Regions from separate parts of the Homo sapiens genome. Here regions 1 and 2 are each linked to region 3. The links come from fine-mapping of genetic effects on gene expression. A gene starts in region 3. Each other region holds a variant in brackets. All regions are shown on one strand. Distances are from middle to middle.

Evidence for each region. PIP is the estimated chance that this variant, and not a neighbour inherited with it, causes the effect.
Region 1: its variant is fine-mapped to the expression of MLEC in whole blood (INTERVAL, PIP above 0.99).
Region 2: its variant is fine-mapped to the expression of MLEC in subcutaneous fat (TwinsUK, PIP 0.95).

What each region holds. Positions count from the first base shown.
Region 1 is chr12:120,907,224-120,915,402 of GRCh38, reverse strand. XLOC_009911 (a long non-coding RNA gene) reads right to left here. Exons shown (of 2, transcript NR_131215.1): 2 at 7,329-7,748. It also overlaps the pseudogene CLIC1P1. Among named protein-coding and RNA genes, the nearest start is that of XLOC_009911, 6.6 kb to the right of the region's middle. RefSeq lists an enhancer at 5,238-5,357. The variant C/T (reference allele first, on the strand shown) is at 4,094.
Region 2 is chr12:120,729,622-120,737,788 of GRCh38, reverse strand. ACADS (acyl-CoA dehydrogenase short chain) reads right to left here. Exons shown (of 10, transcript NM_000017.4): 3 at 654-803; 4 at 322-433. Among named protein-coding and RNA genes, the nearest start is that of ACADS, 7.9 kb to the right of the region's middle. The variant T/AAT (reference allele first, on the strand shown) is at 3,036.
Region 3 is chr12:120,682,851-120,691,014 of GRCh38, reverse strand. MLEC (malectin) reads right to left here and starts at 3,866. Exons shown (of 5, transcript NM_014730.4): 1 at 3,484-3,866. The coding sequence starts at 3,718. LOC105370029 (a long non-coding RNA gene) reads left to right here and starts at 3,866. Exons shown (of 3, transcript XR_945449.3): 1 at 3,866-4,161; 2 at 8,010-8,119. RefSeq lists silencers at 3,508-3,807, 4,648-4,747, 5,862-5,951 and enhancers at 3,562-4,063, 4,158-4,287, 4,378-4,487.

The DNA.
Region 1 (8,179 bases), 220 kb before region 3:
TTCTTTAACAGATGCGGCTGTTTATTTATTTTTTCATTTTTTTCTCTATTTTATTACTGAAATATGTTGTCCTGCCCATCCCACCCCACAATAAAAATCTCACCCAGCCCCCCATTTATTTCCCTCATCCCCTCTTCCCCACACCATCCCAGAACAAGTCTTCCAGGATTCCCTGTCCACTGGCCATTTTGGAGTGTGTCCATTGGGTTGCAATATGGAAACCACCAGGGCTTTTGTGGAGAAAATGGAGGGGGTTGAGGGAGTCCCAGGAGGGGCTTATTTGAGGGCATTGGCCCCTTGCTCATAGGCGAGCTGGATCTCTTCATCATCTGGGCAGGTGGAGACGGGTTCTTCCCATGCATAAGCATTGCTCAAGTGCTGACGCGTTCCCGGGAAGGCCTCAGGGATGTTAAATCCCCGGTACTTCTTACACACCACCTGTACTATGTGTAGCTTTGGCAACAGGTTGCAGTCAGCCAGGGTGAGCTCATTGCCATTCAGAAACTTCCTCTGCGAGATGCCCTCATCTTCAGCACTGGTTTCATCTACTTCTTTTGGGAGGGGGGATGTTAAGTAATTGTCTAAAACCTTCAGGGCTTCCAGGAGTCCCTTCTGCAGATTATCATTGAGTGCTGGGTTTGAATTCTTGATGTAGGCAGAAAATTTGGCAAATATGTCCAGCCCAGCTGTGTTGGACTCAGGGTTCAGAGCTGCCAGCTTGGGGTATCTCGGAGGGCACAGTACTGCCTCCAGAAATTCCACCATCTTGTTGGTGTCTGTGTGCACTTCAGTGCCATGCAGCAGGAATGGGAGCTGCCCTCCTGGGCACAGCTTCTGCACTCTCTCAGTCTGTCTCTTGGTGTCAATGGTGGTAACGTTGAAGGTGACTCCTGTGACCCACAGCACTATGAACAGTCTCAGGGAGAAGGGGCGGTTCCCAGTCTCGGCCCCATCACTGCCAGCCTTCACGCACAGTTAGACTGGCAGTTGTTCTTCCGCCGTGGTTGCGTCCCTTTTTTTTTTTTTTTTTTTTTTTTTGAGACAGAGTCTTGCTCTGTAGCCCAGGCTGGACCCAGGCTGGAGTGCAGTGGTGCGATCTTGGCTCACTGCTACCTCCACCTCCCGGGTCCCGGTTCAAGCAATTCTCCTGCCTCAGCCTCCTGAGTAGCTAGGATTACAGGCACGTGCCACCATGCCCAGCTAATTTTTCTATTATTAGTAGAGATGGGGTTTCACCATGTTGGTCAGGCTGGTCTTGAACTCCTGACCTCGTGATCCACCCGCCTGGGCCTCCCAAAGTGCTGGGATTACAGGTGTGAGCCACCGTACCTGGGCCTTCCTTTTTTTTTTTTTTTTTTTTTAATCATATAGGCACACTGACAGATGTGGCTATTTAAGAGCTAAAGTTATGACATTGTATTGTGGGGTTTATAACAGATGTCATTTATATAATAAGAACAACAAAAGAGGGTGGACATGGAAATAAATGGAACGATATTGTGCAAAGTTCCTACATTTTATGGGAAATAGTACAATATTAATTTTAAGTAGATTGTGGGCTGGACGCACTGGCTCACTTCCATAATCCCAACACTTTGGGAAGCCGACATGGATGGATCACTTGAGGTCAAGAGTTCAAGACCAGCCTGGCCGACATGGTGAAACCCTGTCTCTACTAAAAATACAAAAATTAGCTGGGCGTGGTGGTACGTGCCTATAATCCCAGCTACTTGGAAGCCTGAGGCATGAGAATCACTTGAACCCAGGAGGCGGAGGTTGTAGTGAACCGAGATGGAACCACTGCCCTCCAGCCTGGGTGACAGGGTGAGACTCCAGCTCAAACATGATAATAATAATAATAATAATAATAATAATAATAATAATAAATAGGCCGGGCGCGGTGGCTCACGCCTGTAATCCCAGCACTTTGGGAGGCCGAGGCGGGCGGATCACGAGATCAAGAGACCGAGACCATCCTGGCTATACTAAAAATACAAAAAATTAGCCAGGGGTGGTGGTGGGCACCTGTAGTCCCAGCTACTCGGGAAGCTGAGGCAGGAGAATCGCTTGAACCTGGAAGGTGGAGCTTGCAGTGAGCCAAGATCGTGCCATGGCACTCCAGCCTGGGCGACAGAGGAAGACTCTTTCTCAAAAAAAATAAAATAAAATAAAATAATAATAATAATAACAATTTTAAGTAGATTGTGATAAGTTAAAGCTCATGAGATTCACACTCACTACAGCAGCCACTTCGACTACAATTTAACGAGGGTACAGCTTTAAAAAAGCCAGTAAAGCCGGGGGCAGTGGCTCACACCTGTAATCCCAGCACTTTGGGAGGCCAAGGCAGGTGGACTGCCTGAACTCAGGAGTTTGAGACCAGCCTGAGCAACATGGTGAAAACCCATCTCTACTAAAATACAAAAGATTAGCTGGGTGTGGCAGCGTGTGCCTGTAATCCCAGCTACTCAGGGGGCTGAGGAAGGAGAACTTCTGGAACCCAGCAGGCAGAGGTTACAGAGAGCCGAGATTGCACCACTGCACTCCAGCCTGGGCAACAAGAGCAAGACTCTGTCTCAAAAAAGAAAAAAGCCAGTAGAGATATTAAAATATAATCATAAAAAATTACTCAGTTAACTCAAAAGAAGGTAGGAAAGGAGAAACAGAGGAACAACAACAAAAAAGATGGAATGAGTAGAAAACAAATAGCAAAATGGCAGAACCAAACCTAAACACATCAACAATTACATCAAATGTAAATGAAATAAATATTCTAATTAAAACACAGAAATGGTTAGGCAGGAGCCGGGCACTGTGGCTTATGCCTGTAATCTCAGTACTTTGGGAGGCTGAGGCTGAGGCTGAGGAAGGTGGATCACCTGAGGTCAGAAGTTCAAGACCAGCCTGGCCAACATGGAGAAACCCTGTCTCTACTAAAAGTACAAAAATTACCCGGGCGTGGTGGCAGGCGCCTGTAATTCCAGCTACTCATGTGGCTGAGGCAGGAGAGTGGCTTGAACCCGGGAGGTAGAAATTGGAGTGAGCTGAGATTGCACCACTGTACTCCAGCCTGGGGGACAGAGTGAGACTCTGTCTTGAAAAAAAAAAACGAAAGAAAGAAAGAAAGAAAAAGAAATGGTCAGGCAGAGCAAAGAAGAATATATAAGCATATGCTATCTACGAGGCACATACTTTTTAAAAAGTTTTATTTATTTATTTTTTTTAGACAGTCTCACTCTGTTGCCCAGGCTGGAGTGCAGTGGCACCATTTTGGCTCACTGCAACCTCCACTTCCTGCATTCAAGCGATTCTCCTGCCTCCGCCTTCCTAGTAGCTGGGATTACAGGTGCATGCCACTACCCCCGGCTAATTTTTGTATTTTTGTAGAGACAGAGTTTCACCACATTGGCCAGGCTGGTCTCGAACTCCTGACCTCAGGTGATCTGCCTCCTTGGCCTCCCAAAGTGCTGGGATTACAGGTATGAGCCATCGCGCCTGGCCTAAGGCACATAAATTTATTTACTTATTTTTGTTTTATTTTTTCATAGAGTCTCACTCTGTTGCCCAGGCTGAGTGCAGTGGCGTGATCTGGGCTCACTGCAACCTCTGCCTCCCAGGTTCAAGCAATTCTCCTGCTTCAGCTTCCCGAGTAGCTGGGACTACAGGCATGCGCCACCACACCTGGCTAATTTTTTTGTGTGTTTTAGTAGAGACGGGGTTTCACCGTGTTGCCCAGGCTGGTCTTGAACTCCTGAGCTCAGACAATCCGCCCGCCTCAGCCTCCCAAACTGCTAGGTTTACAGGCGTGAGCCACCACGCCCAGCCGGCACATACTTTATTATTATTATTTTTTTTTTTTTTTTGAGACGGAGTCTCGCTCTGTCTCCCAGGGTGGAGTGCAGTGGCGCGATCTTGGCTCACTGCAAGCTCCTTCTCCCTTGTTCACACCATTCTCCTGCCTCAGCCTCCTGAGTACCGGTGACTACAGTCACCGGCCACGCCTGGCTAATTTTTTTTTTGTATTTTTTTAGTAGAGAAGGGGTTTCACCATGTTAGCCAGGGTGGTCTCCATCTCCTGACCTCGTGATCCACC[C/T]GCCTTGGCCTCCCAAAGTGCTGGGATTACAGGCATGAGCCACCACGCCCAGCTGGCACATACTTTAAATACAAACCCACACTGAGGTTGACAGTAAAAGGTTGGAAAAATGATCTAAAATAAAAACACACATCATAAGAAAGCTATATTAATATCAGATAAAGTAGACTTCAAAACTAAGAACATAAGACAGGTATTTCATAATGATAAAAGGGGCACTTCATTAAGAAGATATAACAATTTTAAGTATCAACCTAATCATAGTTCCAAATACATAAAGGAAAAATTGATATAATTAAATGAAGAAGTAAATTCATAATTAGAAATTTACTTATCTCTAAATAATTGAGCTGCTAGACAAAAAAATCAGTAAGGACATAGAATATCTGAACAACATTATCAGCCACCTTGAATTAGTTGACTATTATAGAACACCGCACCCCGAAATAATAGAATTCTTCTAAAGTGCACCTGGAATAGTCACTGCAATAAACCATATGTTGGCTATAAACAAGTTCCAATAAGCTTCAGAAGACTGAAATCTTACAGAATATATTCTCTGACCACAACAGAATTCAATTAACATCAACAACAAAGAAGATATCCAGGAAAGCCCCAAGTATTTGGAAATTAAACAAGATTCTTCCAAAAAATACATAGTATCCATGGTATACCCAAATAAATTGAAAACATGTCCACATGAAACCTGCACACAAACCTTGAGAGCTGCTTTATTCATACTTGCCAAAAGTTGGAAGCAACCAAAGTGTCCTTCAATAGGTGAAGGGATAAACGAACTCTGGTACATTCATACAATGGAATATTATTCAGCAATAAAAAGAAATGAGCTATCAAGCCACGAAAAGACATGGAAAAATATCAAAAGTATACTGCTACGTGAAAAGCCAGCCTGAAAAGGCTACACGCTGTATGATTCCAATGATAGGACATTCTGGAATAGGCAAAACTATGCAGACAGTAAAAAGATCCGTGGTTGCCAGAATTTGATGGGGAGGGAGGGATGAATAGGCAGAGGGTGGGAGATTTCTGGGGCTGTGAAACTATTCCGTATGACATTATAATGGTGGTTACATACCATAGTGTATTTGTCAAAGCCCGTAGACTATACAACATGAAGAGTAAAACCTAATCTCATTATTGGCTCATCAACTGTAACAAATGTACTTACACTAATATACCATGTGATTAATAGGGGAGATTTACTGGAGGGAGAGGCCTATATGGGAACTCTCTGTACTTTCCCATCAATTTTTCTGTAAGCCTGAAACTTCTCTAAAAAACGTTTTCTGAAAACCCATGTTCAAAGAATGCAAGTGACCCTGTGTCTGATAAGCTCACCATATACCTTACTTCTGATCTGTCTTCCCGTATCTCTCTCCCCTTAAGAACTCTCACTCTTAGTCAAGGAGGGAGTTACAGAGGACAGAAGTGGGTGTTGAGTATGACATCAGGCAAAACAAGTTGTTCTGGATCCTGGCTTGCCTTCCCCTTCACTCAAACATTCATTCTACAGACACTGAGCTTCTATTCTGGGCTAATCTCTCTGCTGGGCACACAGGATATAACTGGCAGCCAGTTACAATCCCTTCCCAAGAAGCATTCACAAGCTAAGGGAGAAACTGACAAGTAAACAGTCGATGACAGTTCATTATGCCAAGTGTCATGTGGGTAAATTCAGAGGACAATGAGAATGCAGAGAAGTATCTAACCCAGCCTAGGTTTTGGTCAAGTGAGATTTCCTGGAGGATGTGACATTGCAGTCAAGCCCCGAAAACTATAAGCAGCAGTTAAGAGGCAATGGGAGGCCGGGCGCTGCGGCCCACACCTGTAATTCCAGCGCTTTGGGAGGCAAAGATGGGTGGATCACTTGAGATCAGGAGTTTGAGACCAGCCTGGCCAACATGGCCAAAGTCGTCTCCACTAAAAATACAAAAAAAAATTAGCTGGGCATGGTAGTGGTGGGCAACTGTAATCCCAGCTACTCGGGAGGCTGAAGCAGGAGAATCACTTGAACCCAGGAGGCGAAAGTTGCAGTGAGCTGAGATGGCGCCACTGCACACCAGCCTCGGCGACAGAGTGATACTTTGTCTAAAAAAAAAAAAAAAAAGAAAGACCCAATGGGAAACCTCCTGGACTTGATCAGAGGATTGGAAGCAAAAAAGAACACAGCCCGTGGGGAAGCTACAAGCAGGTCACTATGGAATATAAACAAAGTGCACATGCATGTGTGTGGGGGCGAGGGGTGGATGACAGAGGGGAGAAATGGCCTGGAGGGACTGGTAGAGCCAGGTCAGACCTAAGCCTTGATGTTCTCAGAAACAATGCTTAAGCAGCCCAGACAGACCTTGTAATGCCAGCTTCCTGGAGTCTGTGCCTAAAGCAGAGGACCCATCCTGGGGGAGACTCCCCAAGTCTCTTTTGAACACACTTGGTGGAAGAAGCTATCCTATAATTACTGTGGTGATAATTAGAGGCACCTGCATGGCCTCTTTCTTTCTTTTTTTTTTTTTGAGACGGCGTTTCGGAGTTTCGCTCTTGTTGCTCAGGCTGGAGTGCAGTGGCACGATCTCGGCTCACCGCAACCTCCGCCTCCCGGGTTCAAGCGATTCTCCTGCCTCAGCCTCCCGAGTAGCTGGGATTGCAGGCATGTGCCACTACCACCCGGCTAATTTTTGTATTTTTAGTAGGGATGGGGTTTCTCCATGTTGGCCAGGCTGGTCTTGAACTCCCGACCTCAGGTGATCTGCCCGCCTAGGCCTCCCAGTGTGCTGGGATTACAGGCATGAGCCACCGCACCCAGCCTCCATGGCTTCTTTCAGCAAATATTGCACAAGCTGTAGCGCTCTCACCTGCAGTGGGGTGCAGAGAGACAAAGCACCCCTCCTGGGGGAGCCTAATGCCTGAGTCTCTTGTGAAGCACACCTGACTCCCTGGCTGAGGCCCAAAGGTGTCACAGATACACCTGGGGCTGCTATAGCTTGGAGCTGAGTGCTGCTGGCAGGGAGACTAAAAGTCACTCCCAGTCGGGTGCGGTGGCTGACGCCTATAATCCTAGCACTTTGGGAGACCAAGGTGGGCAGATTGCCTGAGCTCAGGAGTTCGAGACCATCCTGGCCAACATGGTGAAACCCCGTCTCTACTAAAAATACGAAAAATAGCTGGGCATGGTGGTGGGTGCCTGTAATCCGAGCTGCTTGGGAGGCTGAGTCAGTAGAATGGCTTGAACCCAGGAGGTGGAGGTTTCAGTGAGCTGAGATTGCGCCACTGCACTCCAGCCGTGTGACAGAGCAAGACTCTGTCTCAAAATAAAATTAAAATTAAAAAGTCACTCCCCAGATGCCACAGTCTGGGCAGCTCCCAGGCAAGCCACAGGCTTCAGATTTATTCCAACCTTGCCCTCTGGGGAGACTTCAAGCCTGTAGAGATGTTGACTAGGATCTAGAGGTGCTGTCTACTTCTCGGCAACCTTAGCCTGAGATGCTCAAGCCATTAGTCTCTGGGCCCACACTTCATCTTCCTGGGACCAGGTACACGGTGTTTCCATGGCCTGGACATCATCCCAGCCCTGGCAAGTGCTGTGTAGCTTCTTCTAGGGTCTGCAGCCACATTTCCTCAAGAAACACTTCGGAGGTCTCTGGTTCAGATAGAGAGAAGAAAACCTCTCCTCATTCACCATACCTTCACCAAACCCCTTCTCCCTCCTTTCTTCCACCAGATTTTTCCCACTGAAAAGAATGGTCCCTTTGCTTCTGGGAAGGCCTTGACTTTCCTACTCTAGCAGCTCCCGTTTCATTCATCCAACACCAACTTTCCACTTGGCTTTGACTTCTATGACTCACTGGGAACCAAAGCCCAAGTGAATCGCCCAGAGGCTCAGTGTGGCATTTTCGTTTCAAAAGTGACATGTCTGGTCTGTTTTGTTCTTAGCTCTCCAAAGAAAAAGCTTCTGCATCACCCAAAGCCACTTCCAACGGCTTCTGGCCTTTCCCATGGGACCTAAAGCCTCACTCTGTGCCCCTTTGAAACTCAGAATGACTGCGTCACGTTCAAGGACACAGTTGGCTT
Region 2 (8,167 bases), 47 kb before region 3:
TAAGGGCACCAGCCTCACTCCCTCCACACCCCTGCTGGCAGACACGAAACCCTATGACTCGGGCTCCAAAGATGAGGGTCCCAAAGCTCTCAGTGATGGGACCAGAGGGCGAGGGGGGTGTGCAGGAGCTGGCGTCTTAAACCAGGGGACCCCGAAGGCAATCTTCCTCCCAGCGCCGCGGTGGCAAGAGCGCTCACCCTACCAACCACACGGGGAGCCTCCCCTCTGGCCTCCGAAGCAGTGGGCAGTTGGCCTAGCACCTTCCTCTCCTCCCCTCTGGGCCTGTCACCCTAAGGACAGGTGAGGGGACAGGGCAGGTACCTGGTTCGCTGAGGGCAAAGCAGCCAATTTTGTCACCACTGGTGAAAGGCGTGACCCACGCCTGCTTCTGCTCCTTGGAGCCAAACTTCAAGATGGGCCCCAGGTAGAGAGACTAGGAGGACAGCGGGGAGCGGTCGGAGGCCCCAGGCCCAGGCGCATCCTGCCCACCTGCGGGCTGCACCTCAGGGCCTGTTCTGTCCAGGGCCTACCCAGTAGGACCAAGGCCTGTGACGTCTCCAGAGAGATCAGGGCTGGGAGCCGAGGCCAGAGCCTGCCCGCTCACGGGAGCCTCCCTCCACCCGTGTGTCCCAGGGGCCTGGGAGGGGGCTCACGTTGTTGACACTCATGATGACTCCGGTGGAGGCGCAGCCACGGCTGATCTCCTCCATGGCGATGGCGTAGGCCAGGTAATCGAGGCCAGCACCGCCAAGCTCCTCGGGCACGTCCATGGCCAGAAGCCCAAGCCCGCCCATCTTCTTCACCTGGGCACAGGGAAGGACGGCACGCCATGGGCAGCTGCCGGGGGCGAGCCCACCCTCCCCAAGCCCAAACCCTCCTGCCCCCGAGGCAGTGCCCTGCAGAAACTCAGGCCATGTGACCCCAGCCACGCACAAGGGATCCCCAAGTCCAGAAGCTGAAGACCCAGTCCCACTGAGGTCTATATGATGGCACTTCTCATTCAAGCTGTCCTGCCCCCGCCTCCACGCCTGCTCCCCGCTCCGTCCACAGCCACGGCAGCGAGCAAGCAGAAGGCACAGGATGCTTTCAGGGAACTCAGAGGTAAGGAGCAGGACAGCGTGAGCCACACTGACCTTCGTCCAGCCCCCTCTGCACATCCACACACACGCACCCTCCCCACCACAGGGCCTCTGCACATGCCACCTCCTATCCCTCAGCTGGTTATTGCCCCTCCTCTCCTTCTGATCGCAGCTCAGGCCTCGCTGCTTTGGGCTGCCATCCCCAGCCTCGCTGAGTCAAATCCTTCAGTCCCTCTCCTGCAGCACTTCTGCGGCTGGAATTTCTCAGGGATGAACGTGCTTCTCTGGATTAAGGTCTTTTGCCTTCACCACGAGGGCACAGACTGTGTGTGCTCTTGCTCACTGCTACATGCCCAAGGCCAGTGAGAGAATGAATGAAGGATAAGAGCTTGGGACTCTTAATTCTGGGTAATAATCATATTAAGAGTGGGCCAGGAGCAGTGATCACACCTGTAATCCCAGCACTTTGGGAGACCAAGGTGAGGGGATTGCTTGAGGCCAGGAGTTCGAGACCAGTCTGGGCAACATAGCAAGACCCCATCTCTACCAAAAACAAAATAATAATAATAGTATTATTACTTTCAGGTGAGTAATATGGGAAATGTGGACCACAGAATCTACCTAACTTCAAAAAGGAACAAGTAAAACCACTTATCTCTGGGAGAGCAGGGACAGGGACAGGGACGGGGACAGGGACAGGGACGGGGACAGGGATGGGGACGGGAGGGAACCGTTGCTTTTCACGAGCCCTTTTATACAATCTCATTCCTGCAAACATGTTATTTTATTTTATTTTATTTTATTTTATTTTGTGACAGAGTATTGTTCTGTTGCCCAGGCTGGAGTGCAGTAGTGCAGATCTCGGCTCACTGCAACCTCTTCCTCCCAGGTTCAAGCAATTCTCTGCCTCAGCCTACCGAGTAGCTGAGATTACAGGTGCCCATAATCACGCCCAGCTAATTTTTGTATTTTTAGTAGAGACGGGTTTTCACCATCTTGGCCAGGCTGGTCTTGAACTCCCGACCTCGTGATCCACCCACCTCGGCCTCCCAAAGTGCTGGGATTACAGGTGTGAGCCACCACACCTAGTCTCAACCATGTTCTTATACTACCATGACTTACATAAACTAATAAGAATGTTTGCTAATATATTCTTGTTTTTCTATACTCCTGTGAATATAAAAGTTTTACCTTCCCCGTCCCCAAAACAGTACTCACCTCAAAGGACTGTTCTGAGGCCTGACTGAGATAATACACATGAAAGGCAGAGCCCAGCACCTGGCCCAGGCTGAGGTACTGTTGAACAGCATCTATCATCAAGTGGCTGCCAAGTTGTTTTTTTTTTTTTTTTTTTTTTTTTTAAGGACTGCGCACAGTGACTCACACCTGTAATCCCAGCACTTTGTTTGTTTCTTTTTTCTTTTTTTTTTTTTTTTTTGAAACAGAGTCTCACTTTGTTGCCCAGGCTGGAGTGCAGTGGCACAGTCTCGGCTCACTGCAACCTCCACCTCCTGGGTTCAAGTGATTCTCCTGCCTCAGCCTCCCGAGTAGCTGGGATTACAGGTGCCTGCCACCACACCTGGCTAATTTTTATATTTTTGGTAGAGACCAGGTTTCACCACATTAGCCAGGCTGTTCTCGAACTTCTGACCTGAAGTGATGCGCCTGCCTCAGCCTCCCAAAGAATCTCAGCACTTTGGAAGGCCAAAATGGGTGGATCATTTGAAGCCAGGAGTTCGAGACCAGCCTGGCCAACGTGGTGAAACCATATCTCTACCAAAAATATAAAAACTAGCCAGGCATGGTGGCGGGTGCCTGTAATCCCAGCTACTCGGGAGGCTGAGGCAGGAGAATTGCTTGAACCTGGAAGGAAGAGGTTGCAGTGAACCGAGAGCACGCCACTGCACTCCAGTCTGGGCGACAGAGCGAGAATCTGTCTCAAAAAAAAAAAAAAAA[T/AAT]TATTGTTTTTTTAGAGACAGGGTGTCACTGTGTTGCCCAAGCTGGTGTCGAACTCCTGGCTCGAGTGATCCTCTTGCCTCAGCCTCCCTCATGCTGATTAGAGGCACGAGCCACCACACCAAGCCTAGTTCTTACTTTGGCAATAACGTATGGAAAAGAGGGGGCACCTAGGAGCCTGCAGCACTTCTGTGACAACCTGTGTGTCCCTCTGTGAAATTGCTTATTTGATTCTTCCTTGAACTGTTCCCATGGGAAACTCACTTGTAAGACTCTAAGTGCGGGGCGGAGCGTCATCTCCGAGTCTCCCACACGTACCACATGTGGGGCATAAACGTGTGTGCTGAGAGGCTTGAGCTATGACCCCCACAAGTGCACATCAAGCTCTGCGGCCCCCAGGCAGATGCTGTGCTGCAGTCAGAGGGCAGAGAAGCTGGGAAGGAGATGGCCAGTGTGTGGAAGGCAGCATGACAGCAACCGCCCAAGATGTCCCCATCCTAATCCCAGGTCCCAGGAGTATGTTCCCTTCCGTGGCAATAGGGACTTTGCACACGTAAGTGAAGCGTCTGGAGATGTGAGGGTTATTCTGGATGATCAGAGTCACCCAGTGTCATCACAGAGTCTTTGTAAGGCAAAGACAGACACAGACTCAGAGAAGGAGAGGTGACGACGGAAGCAGAGGCAGGAACTCTGGCGGGAAGAATGCAGGCGGCCTCTAGAACTGGGAAAGACAGGAGTGGATTTCCCCAGAGCCTGCAGAGGGAACTCAGTCCTGCCGATGCCTTGATTTAGCCCTGTGGGACCCACACTGGATGCCTGACTCGGGTTGAGTAACTCGTGAACAGCATTTCTCAAGTGGCTGCCATGGTTTGGTTTTGTTTTTTCTATTTTTTTTTTTTTTTTTTGGTAGAGATGGGGTCTTGCTATGTTGCCCAGGCTGGTCTTGAATGGTCAGAGAATATATCTGTATTGCTTTAAGCCACAGGGTTTGTGGTCATTTGTTACAGCAGCAATAGGAAACTCATCCACAGTGACAAATGGGAACTCAGAGCTACCAGGGAGGTGTCATTTTGAGAATTACTAAAAAGAAGATTGTTCTGTGGCCGCCACACACCTGGGGAGGGGGGTCCTGCTCAGAATAGGCACCATTTCAGCAGGCACCATTTCAGCAGGCACCATTTCAGCAGGCACCATTTCAGCAGGCACCATTTCAGCAGGCAGGAACCAACTAGGGAAGGGGAAGTCCAAGTGAGAGAGTGCTTTTCACTAGGAAGAGGACCTGGAGACACAGACCTGCGGCAGCACACACATGGCCTCTGAACAGAACACTTTTCTAGCCCACACTTCAGAGTACTTTGCCAGGCGCAGTGGCTCATGCTTGTATTCCCAGCACTTTGGTAGCTGAGGCAGGTGGATCACCTGAGGTCAGGAGTTCGAGACCAGCCTGGCCAACATGGTAAAACCCCGTCTCTACTAAAAATACAAGGATTCTCCCTCTCCCTCTCCCTCTCCCTCTCCCCCCGGTCTCCCTCTCCCTCTCTTTCCACGGTCTCCCTCTGATGCCGAGCCGAAGCTGGACTGTACTGCCGCCATCTCTGCTCACTGCAACCTCCCTGCCTGATTCTCCTGCCTCAGCCTGCCGAGTGCCTGCGATTGCAGGCGCGCGCCGCCACGCCTGACTGGTTTTCGTATTTTTTTGGTGGAGACGGGGTTTCGCTGTGTTGGCCAGGCTGGTCTCCAGCTCCTAACCAGGAGTGATCTGCCAGCCTTGGCCTCCCGAGGTGCCGGGATTGCAGACGGAGTCTCGTTCACTCAGTGCTCAATGTTGCCCAGGCTGGAGTGCAGTGGCTTGATCTCAGCTCGCTACAACCTCCACCTCCCAGCCGCCTGCCTTGGCCTCCCAAAGTGCCGAGATTGCAGTCTCTGCCCGGCCGCCACCCCGTCTGGGAAATGAGGAGCGTCTCTGCCTGGCCGCCCATCGTCTGGGATGTGAGGAGCCCCTCTGCCCGGCTGCCCAGTCTGGGAAGTGAGGAGCGCCTCTTCCCGGCCGCCATCCCATCTAGGAAGTGAGGAGCGTCTCTGCCCGGCCGCCCATCGTCTGAGATGTGGGGAGCGCCTCTGCCCCACTGCCCCGTCTGGGATGTGAGGAGCGCCTCTGCCCGGCCGCGACCCCGTCTGGGAACTGAGGAGTGTCTCTGCCCGACCGCCACCCCGTCTGGGAGGTGAGGAGTGTCTCTGCCTGCCCGCCCCGAGAAGTGAGGAGCCCCTCCGCCCGGCAGCCACCCCATCTGAGAAGTGAGGAGCCCCTCTGCCTGGCAGCCACCCCGTCTGAGAAGTGAGGAGCCCCTCCGCCCAGCAGACACCCCGTCTGGGAAGTGAGGAGCGTCTCCGCCCGGCAGCCACCCCGTCCGGCAGCCACCCCGTCCGGGAGGGAGGTTGGGGGCAGCCCCCGCCCGGCCAGCCGCCCCGTCCGGGAGGGAGGTGGGGGTCAGCCCCCGCCCGGCCAGCCGCCCCGTCCGGGAGGTGAGGGGCGCCTCTGCCCGGCCGCCCGTACTGGGAAGTGAGGAGCCCCTCTGCCCGGCCACCACCCCGTCTGGGAGGTGTACCCAACAGCTCATTGAGAACAGGCCATGATGACGATGGCAGTTTTGTGGAATAGAAAAGGGGGAAAGGTGGGGAAAAGATTGAGAAATCGGATGGTTGCTGTGTCTGTGTAGAAAGAAGTAGACATGGGAGACTTCATTTCGTTCTGTACTAAGAAAAATTCTTCTGCCTTGGGATGCTGTTGATCTATGACCTTACCCCCAACCCTGTGCTCTCTGAAACATGTGCTGTATCCACTCAGGGTTAAATGGATTAAGGGCGGTGCAAGATGTGCTTTGTTAAACAGATGCTTGAAGGCAGCATGCTCCTTAAGAGTCATCACCACTCCCTAATCTCAAGTACCCAGGGACACAAACACTGCGGAAGGCCGCAGGGTCCTCTGCCTAGGAAAACCAGAGACCTTTGTTCACTTGTTTATCTGCTGACCTTCCCTCCACTATTGTCCTATGACCCTGCCAAATCCCCCTCTGCGAGAAACACCCAAGAATGATCAATAAAAAAAATAAAATAAAATAAAATAAATACAAGAATTAGCCAGGCGTGATGGTGGGCGCCTATAATCCCAGCTACTTGGGAGGCTGAGACAGGAGAATCATTTGTACCCAGGAGGTGGAGGTTGCAGTGAGCCAAGATCGTGCCACTATACTCCAGCCTGGGCAACAGAGTGAGACTCCGCCTCAAAAAAAAAAAAAAAAACTATTTTATTAAGGAACACCTCTGCTGCTGGACAATACTCTACCAAGTGCTAGAAATACGCAGGTCTCCAGCTACTCAGGAGGAGGTTGAGGCAGGAGAATCACTTGAGCCCAGGCGTTCAAATCCAGCCTGGCCAACATGATGATACCCCTGTTTCTAAAAGAAAATTTTTTAATTAAAAAAATTTTAAAAAGAGGGTGTGGTAGCTCAGGCCTGTAATCCCAGCACTTTGGGAGACGGAGGTAGGAGGATCATCTGAGTCCAGGCGTTTGAGACCAGCTTCATCAACATGGCGAGACCCCCATCTCCACAAAAAGTTATAAAAATAAAAATAAATGAGCCAGGCATGGCGGTGCACACCTGTGGTCCCAGCTACTGCAGGAGGTGAGGCATGAGGATCACTTGAGCCCTGAGCCCGGGAGGTCAAGGCTGCAGTGAGCTGTGTTTGTGTCACTGCACTCCAGCCTGGGCGACAGTGAGGCCCTGTCTCAAAAAAACAAAAACAAAAATAAATATGCAGTTGTCCAAGACTCACGGTCAGGCCTAGGCATGAACCTCACCAAAAGCCTTTTTCTCTAGCTTACCAGCAAAACAGAATAAGGCTAAACTAGCTCAAGCCGCCTCACCCTCCAAGCACCTTCAGATCTCCCTGGACAGAGACACACCCTCCTTTTCACCCCGGAACTTGTTGGTATAAAACCCTGGAATAAATGGCACATGAGCCAATCGCTCCATAACTCCATCTCATCCCCAGAAACACAGTGGGAACCCAAATTCCCAGAAAGAGAGTAAAAGGATGAAACTCTCCTAGGTGCGTTCAGTTCCTCATACTCACCTAAAATGCTTGGTCACACGTCCCGACAGGTAGCAGAATGAGGGTGACCCCATATTCCTCTTACAGATGAGGGAATTCACACAGAAAGGGTATGTGGTGTCAGTGGCCAGGTCTAGGCCACCAGGAGGCAAGACAGAACCCCAGCCTCCTCCTCCCTACACAGCGCCGCCTCCCTCTGACTAATGCGACACTTCTCAATGAGCTAGAATCAAAAGTTGTAGGAATTCACAATTCCCACACCCAAAGGACCTCACTAGCATATACCATCGCCCTCAATTTTCCCCCAGCTCCTGTCTTCCCTCCTTTCTCACCATCAGCATTTTCTTTTACAGCATCTACCAGCTGGGCGCGGTGGCTCATGCCTGTAATCCCAGAACTTTGGGAGGCCCAGGCGGGCGGATAACAAAGTCAAGAGTTCGAGACCAGCCTGGCCAACATGGTGAAACCCCGTCTCTACTAAAAAGACAAAAATTAGCCGGGTGTGGTGGTGCGCACCTGTAGTTCCAGCTACTTGGGAGGCTGAGGCAGGAAAATTGCTTGAACCCAGGAGGCAAAGGCTACAGTGAGCCGAGATCGCACCACTGTACTCCAGCCTGGGGACAGAGCGAGACTCCATCACACACACACAAAAATAATTTAAAAAATAAAGCATCTACCTGTGGCTGTGAAAGACATGGCAGTTCCACTCACTCCCACTCTGGTGTTGAGACAGCAAATTTCAAAAGAGAGGAGCACCGCTCTGGGGCAGCACCTAAGAGCACAGCCTTCTCCATCCCATCCCAGAGCCTGGACACAGTCACCTCACCCCATTTTATCAGTGGTGACAGGGGCTGTTTCCCAGGCCTTCTCACTCTGAAATTTATCTCTAGATTTCAGGCAACAAACTGTGGCCAGCTACAGGAACATTCTAGAAAAAAAGTGGGGACAAAAGCAATAACCATGGTAATGTGCACTCGTTAAAGGGCCTCCTGAAAAAGAGACAGGGAGACCAGCACCGAG
Region 3 (8,164 bases):
TCTTCTGGATCACTTCTTTCTCCAGTGAGGCCAGTACCTAAAGAATTGTTCTGAATGGGCTGAGACAGCGAACCCACGGATTCAGGGACCTAAATTTTCTACCTGTGAACTTCCACTATTTGGAAGGCCTGCAGATGAAGCCTGCCTGTTAGGTGACAGTAGAGGTAGAGAATTCTAAACAACTGCCATGGCTTTGAGCAAATCAGAGGTAGCAGTGACTCCTCTCTCATCCCATGTTTCAAGCTCTTACCTCCCCAAAGCCAAATCCTTCCCCAGGTGAAAGGAAGGCAGCCCAGGAAAGGGTATTCCTTAAGGTTACAGCATTAGCAACCTGATAGGCTCTGGTCCCCAACCAACTTTTTTCCCCTCTGGAGCTATGTTCTGCCCTATTTTTAATTCCATGTAAAAGGTCATCAAGGAAAAAAAAAGTGACAGAGACACTTCAAGCTACTCTGGACAGGAGAGTTTACAGTCTTATCAGAAATTTCTAAAGCATGAGAGATTTTTTGAAAAGGAAAACAAGGCTCAGAGACGTAAAGCAAGTTTCTCGAGGACCTGCGACTTTAGCAGGTATCTTTCTCTGAAGAGGAAATAGCCTTCCCTAAACTCAAGCAAAATTCTGTGCCCTCAGGTCAAATAACCAGGTCTTTTCCTAGTCAGAGTGAAGAGGAACTCAAAATGACCAAGTTACAAATCTGGAACATGGTCAGGCGTGATGGTTCATGCCTGTAATCCCAGCAGTTTGGGAGGCCAAGGTGGGAAGATCACTTGAGGACAGAAGTTCAAGACCAGCCTGGGCAACATAGTGAGACCCCTGTGTCTACAATAAAAAAAAAATTAAAAATTTTCAATAAATAAATAAAAACCCTGGAATGTGCCTCATACCAAAACCCCAAGGTGAACGCTTCTAAACCACTTTCTGTAGTGGTGCTCCCATCTGTGGAAGCACACAGGCTGAAAAAGCCTTTCCCAGGCTGTAAGCACTAGCTATCCTCAAGGCAGAAATGAAATTCAATAAATATTCTGAACTGCTTTTGAAAGCATAAACCACTAGGTGCCCTGGGCCACTCACAATTACAAGAATGTTGAACTACAAAGAAACTACACAGAAACAGCAAGTTCAAAAGAAGGCCAAACCCTTATCTGGACTAACTTGGTAACAAATACCTGAATTCATTCAACATAAAATCAACTTTTCTCAGCATGCTGGAAACAATATCACAGGCAGGCGGGAAAAGAAATAAGGCATACAGTTCCTACTGCAATCAGTGTAAATAGCTGCACGAGGCAAGGGTCTTCAAATACCTGGCACACCCTTATCCAAACAGGCCCAGAAGAAAGGCAGTGTGAACAGCTGGACTTCCCTTGGTAGGACTGACTCCTTAGTAGAGAGCTGCCTCCTGAGAGTGCAAGCTTATGCGCATCTCAGCCCGACCTAAAGCCAGCAAAATGCCTTTCTCAGGAACCTGGTAAGCGCAATGTTGCAACAAGCTGGTCCAAACTGCAGCTGACAAGCGCCACCTCCCACTCCCCATCCATGCCTTAATACTGCTCCAATTCTTACCCAGATTGGTAGAATGGAGAGGGGAACCTTAGCAGGGAACCTTCATTTATACAATGCCCCAAGGGCCAGTGTCCGAAATAGGACTCCAGTACACACAAGCTTTGGTAGGTCTCATGTAATTTTACCTGCTACAATAAACTCCTTCCAAGGAACTGCAACCATGAGCCAATAACCCAAGGACACAGATCTTGGCTGACTGCTGACCAAGCCAAAGAAACACACACACACACACACACACACACACACCACCTGCATCAGCAAATTAAAACCAGAATTTCTGAATAAGGGCAGTATCTGGGAACTAAACCTGTGTGGTCTTACTCGGCTTTATTCTCTGCACAACAGACTGAATAGGACGATGTAACCAATGTAAGGCCTGGTATCTGCTAAGTGAAAGAAACCATCCGCTCAGCACCCTCACCACCGCTATCTCAAGAGGCAAAGTCCACAAACTGTCTAGTTTCCTCAAGGGCTCTTTCCTCCCTGCCCACACTCGTGAAGAAAGAGGAAGGGTCCAGGATAGAGATAGTAATGACCTCCTGCTATAAAGTCTGGCTTTGGCTGCTGTTACCGCTGCTAAAGACTGGAGCCCTGAGTCAGCTGAACCCAGGCTACTGTGATCTACATGCCAGGGCTCAACAAACTCCAAGACAAACATAGAACTTCACAAAACAGCCCTGTGTCCCAAGACCCTCACATGTGTGAAAGGCAATAAACTCCTTAATATAACAAACTCCAGGACACTGCAATCGACTTGGGAAGAACTAACTATTTTAGTAAAAGCAAGAGCCAAATCTGGGCATCGCAGAAAAAGAATGAGAGAAAGTGAAGAGTGAGTCTGTCTCCTGGTTGTCTGGAGGTGGCATACTGCCAATTTGGTAGCCTCTGAACCCAGCATACAGTATCAATCTCCTAGCAAAGAACTTCCTTCTGAAACCTGTTTTCCAATCCCTCCAACAGAAGAAACAAAGATTATAAAGCTGATCTTCCAAAACGGTGGTCTCGGGGCAACCTACATCACAAGCCCCTGGTGCAGAAACCTGGATCCCAGCAAAAAAGCTCAATCTACTATAATCAATTTCGAGTGGGGACTAGGAATCTGCATTTTTAACCAGCTGCCCTGGCAATTCTGACACACACTAACTTTGGGAAGGGAGCAGCTCCGTTAAAAACCACTGTTGCCCAGCAAGTTAAGTCACAATCATTTTCCCCCTAAGCTGGAATTAGAACTCTCAGGATCACCTAGGGGAGGTTGTAAGCATTCTCTGATAGACCATTCGGATTCTTACACTGGTTGACCCAGTTCACACACAGCCACCAGCCTCACGTGCAGGATGGCTTCGATAGAACCACCCTCTGGGGGCGGCCTGCCGATTCTACTTTTAAGCACACATATTCTTCGCTCGAAAAGAGGGCGGGGGAGGAGGCTACAATCAAACTTTCCTGGCCCATTCTCTTCGAAGATTCCTTCCTATTCTGGCTAAGAATCAAGCCCCGCTCCTGCAGAAGGGGCAAGGAAAGCGGCCGATTCCTGGGTCGACGAGAATCTCCCAAGAACTGTCTCGACAGGAGAAGCAGGGGCACCCATGACCTACAACCCGCGAGGCCTGGAGGTAGCAAAAGGCCGCCTTCGTCATTTCTCTCCCAGCTTGGATGGGAGTGAGGGGTTGAGAAAATGCAGGATGAGAAATCCAAATATAACTAACTTCTGGCCAACTCTCTGCCTGTATGACTCTAGGTACCTTGGAGCCAGTGCCAGGCCCTGAGCTCAGAGCGGGCCCCCGAAGAAGCTGCAGAGAGAAACTTCGCTCCAGAGACGCGGCCCCAGGGTCGAAAGGGGCTCGGGGCCCGCAGCCCCCGGCCGGCTGCGCCCAGCACAGCAGGCCCTGGATCCCGCGGCTCGGCAGGGGGACTCTCACCTCGGCCCACCCGGCCTTCCAAAGGGTCCTTGCGGAAGTGGATCCCGTGCACGTCCACATGCGCCTCTCCACCCGCGTTGACCGCCCAAATGACGCTCTCGGGCAGCCCGGCCCCCGCCGCGCCGGCCACGCCGGCCACGCCGAGCCCGGGTCCCCGGATCGCCGGCGGCAGCAGCAGCAGCAGCAGTCGCAGGAGCGCCACAGCGGTTCCCTCAACCGCCCAGGCTCCCAGCATGGCGGCCACCACCACGGGGGCAGCCCCCGCCGACCCTCGTCCTCGGCCGGCTGCCAGGCCACCCCGGACTCAGAAAAACAGCGCCACGGGCCGCTCCGCCTGAGCCGCCGGGGACATGTCGCTCTCAGGCCTCCTTCTTCTCAGCCACGGGTACCGCCTCCCACCTCAGGAACAACCTACCCCGCCGCCCTGCCCCCGGCCACGACGCTGCAGCCAATCAGCGCCCGGCCCTCATTAATTACCCACCACCCCGCCGGGAGGCGCCCGCTCATTGGCTGTCAGGCGCGGGAAAGGGCGTGGCTTCTCCCAGGCGCCGGCCCAGCAGTCGGGCACCAGATGGAGCGCGCGCAGAGGGAGTGAGTTCGGTTGAAGCGGCGGTTCGATGCGGAAGTGGCGGGTGCAGCGCCCAGGCGGCCCCGGAATCCCACAGCTGAATGGGAAAGGTGGCCTGGGGGGGGAAGGTTTAGGGTAGGGCGCACTGACATGTCGCCAGCACTTCCGGTGCTCTAGCTCCTGAGACCAAATAGGCTCTGGAGGGGGCGTGGCCGACTTTCCCGCCCCCTCTTCTTTTCTCAGGGAGCAGCATGAGCATAAATTCTAGTAGGAGAAGCAATGGACACTCTCCAGACCTAAGAGACGCAGTCCTTTTCCCCGCGTGAGGGAGAGGACCCATGCTTTCCCAGAGAGGCCGCGGACACAGGTCTCCAGGGAACGAATCCCATGAGAATAAGGCCCCGCCCCCTCCCCTTAGCGGGCTCGGGGCGGGTGGTAGCGTCCAGACGGCCGTCCAATGAGAAGGCTCCAACGCAGCGGAAACGCGTGGCTTTGAGAGCGAGTGGGTGCCAGGCTGCTCGCGTCTCCATGGCGACGGCCTCTGGCCGGCCTCCGCTGCGTAGGGGCGGGACCGAGGCACCCTAGGCGCTGGCGGGAGTCGCCGCCGGCGGTGCCCAGAGTGGATACCGGGGTTGTCCCGCACGGGCACGGCCCGAACTCCCTCCCTGCTCCTTCACAGTTCACCTGGCGCTCTCCCACACTGGCGATCCCTGCGCTTCGGTCGCTGTTCAAACTCCCATTTTTCCGATGGGGAAACTGAGGCATAGAAAGGGACTGAATTTTGCCAAAGGGTCGCACCGCAAGTGTAGGGCAGAGTCAAGGCAAAAACAAAAAAAACAAAAAAACGCTTATGCATTTTCCATAAATACTGGTCGATTTAGAAATTCTCCCTAAAAGGAAAAAAATGTATCAAGTCCCTGCTACCAGGGTTGTCAGATTTGGCAGATAAAATAGGAGAAGCCCAGTTATATTTGAATTTCAGATAAGCAAATGGGACCCACTTATACTAAAAAAAAAAATGCATTGTTTATTAAAATTTAAACAACTGGACTTCTTGTATTTTATCTACCAATCCTACCTACTACTTAGGCAATGAGCTTTGTGCTACATGAACAAAAAACACACCTGGGGTCCCGCATGAGAATCATAGACTTTGCACAACCCATAATGAAATTAATTGTTTAGTTAGAACAGTGGTAAGTGCTATACGGGAACAAAACAGGGTGCCAAAATAGAGACTATCAGTGGTGGATCTAAATGCACCCAAATTCCTTCCCAGGCCCCAAATTCAGACCCCATGGGGGTAACTTTTGGAAGTGTTCCCTCCCGGTCTCACTTTCCCCCCTATTTTGCAAGCATCTGGCCTTACTTCCTCCCATAGACATGTTTCCTGTCCAAGGTGTTTCTTTTTTTTTTTTTTTCTGTCTTTTTTGGAGACAGAGTCTTGCTCTGTCGCCAGGCTGGAGTGCAGTGGTGCAATCTCGGCTCATGGCAACCTCCACCTCCCGGGTTTAGGCGATTCTGCTGCCTCAGCCTCCTGAGTAGCTGGGACTACAGGCGCGCGCCACCACACCCAACTAGTTTTTTTTATTTTTATTAGAGACCGAGTTTCACCATGTTGGCCAGGATGATCTCGATCTCCTGACCTCGGGGTCCGCGGCCTCCCAAAGTGCTGGGATTACAGGTGTGAGCCACCACACCTGGCCTCTTGGGGTTTCTAATTCTACTATTCTCTCTCTCAAACTGTCATCTTTTAAGGATCTTGACAACTCAGAGGCTTCAGTTACCCTCAAAGGAGGGGTGTGGTGCAAATGGGGAACAGAAACACAAGTAGTGGTGATGGGGCTTCCTCCCTCCAGGCAGTTGGCCTGCAGAGCCCACGTACCACTCAGGTATTGCACTGCCACCAGGCGCTCATGTTTATTTTATCCTCAAGGCAGTCTAGTCCAGGAGAAACAATCACAAAAACGGATTAAATTTTGGGGGAGGCCTCTAAAGGCTTTCTCTCAGTCCTTCGTGTCTTTGGTCACCCCAGAGGGTGAAGAAGATACCCGGCTGGCTCCTGTTATTGAGCCCTTCAGATACCATTCGTGGTTGGGCCATCTGTGTACCAAGGAGCTTGGCTCCCTTTCTGAGATCCAGCTGCTCATGAATTAGGCTGTCTTTTCAGTAAAACGTAAAGTCTGAGACCCTGGAGGCAGGGTATGGGATCCGAGCGTGGGATCTAAGACAGGCTGCCTGCATCCCATGCCTAGTCCCATTTACCCACTGTGTGGCCTTGGGCAAGTGATGTACTTCGCTGAGTTTCAGTTTCCTCAGTTGTGAAATAGAGATACAGTCATGAGTCACTTAATGACAGGGATGCGTTCTGAAAAATGCATCATTAAGCGATTTTGTCATTGTGCAGAGATCACAGAGTGTACTTACACAAACCTAGATGGGGATAGCCTGCTATACACCTAGGCTATATGGTATAGCTGATAGCTCCTACACTACAAACCTCTACAGCATGTTACCTTACTGAATACTGTAGACAGTTGAACACAATGGTAAGTATTTGCGTATCTAAACACAGATACAGTATAAACACAGTATTGGCCAGCCTAGTGGCCCATGCCTGTAATTCCAGCACTTTGGGAGGCTGAGGTGGGTGGATCACTTGAGGCCAGGAGTTCGAGACCAGCCTGACCAACATGGAAAAACCCTGTCTCTACTAAAAATACAAAAATTAGCTGGGCATGGTGGGGCGCACCTGTAATCCCAGCTATTCGGAAGGCCGAGGCAGGAGACTCGCTTGAACCCGGGAGGCAGAGGTTACAGTGAGCCGAGATCGCACCACTGCACTCTAGCCTGGGTGACAGAGTGAGATCCAGTCTCAAAAAAAAAATATATATATATATACACACACACACACACACACACACACACACAAAATTTTATTTATTTATTTATTTATTTATTTATTGTGGAGACAGATTCTCACTATGTTGTCCAGGCTGGCCTCTAACTTGTGGCCTCAAGCGGTCCTCCCGCCTTGACCTTCCAAAGTCCTGGGATTACAGGCCTAAGCCCCTGCACCCAGCCAATATTATAATCTCACGGGACCATCATCGTGTATGTGGTTCGTCATTGGCTGAAATGTTATGTAGCACATGACTGGAATACTTTATTTTACTTATTTATTTTTTGAGACAGAGTCTCACTCTTGCCCAGGCTGGAGTGCAGTGGCATGATCTCGGCTCACTTCAGCCTCTGCCTCCTGGGTTCAAGCAATTCTCGTGTCTCAGCCTCCCAGATAGCTGGGATTATAGGCATGCACCACCATGCCTGGCTAATTTTTGTATTTTTAGTAGAGACAGGGTTTCTCCATGTTGGCCAGCCTGGTCTTGAACTTCTGGCCTCAAGTGATCCACCTGCCTTGGCCTCCCAAAGTGCTGGGATTACAGGTGTGAACAACCGCACCTGGCCTGGAATAGTTTCTATTTCAGAGGGCAGACGTGAGGATTAAAGAAGGTAATAAAACCGCATGAAGAAGAGGAGGAGAAGGTGGTAATGCATATAATAAAGTCATTAGAATTGATAAAGAGCTGAAACAATTGTTTAGATACTCCGAGACCAACCACCATAGCCACATAACCAAAATTTTAGCACCTGATTTTCCAAAATGCTAACTCTAAACATAAACAAAGCACAAGAATAAGTTTTCTTCCCTTATTAGCATGATTCCACAGAATTAAACCAATCAGCCATAGACAAACCAGCTTAAGCAGCTCTATTTGCCTTTGAAAAAATATATATCAGCCAATCATGTAAAGGGTCAAAATACTTCCTCTTGTGCTACAACTGCTGTCAATTCAGACTTCTTGCCAATCTTGTAATCTCCCGATTCACAGACTCTTCCTTTGTATGCACAATCAACTCCTGAAATTTTAACTTGATCTGATTTTATTTTTGACAGATTCATGCCTGGCACAAGCCAAGGCACTCAACCGATTGCTACTCTGAAATGAAAGTCTCGGCCGGGCACGGTGGCTCACGCCTGTAATCCTAGCACTTTGGAAGGCCGAGGTGAGTGGATCACCTGAGGTTGGGAGTTCAAGACCAGCCTGACCA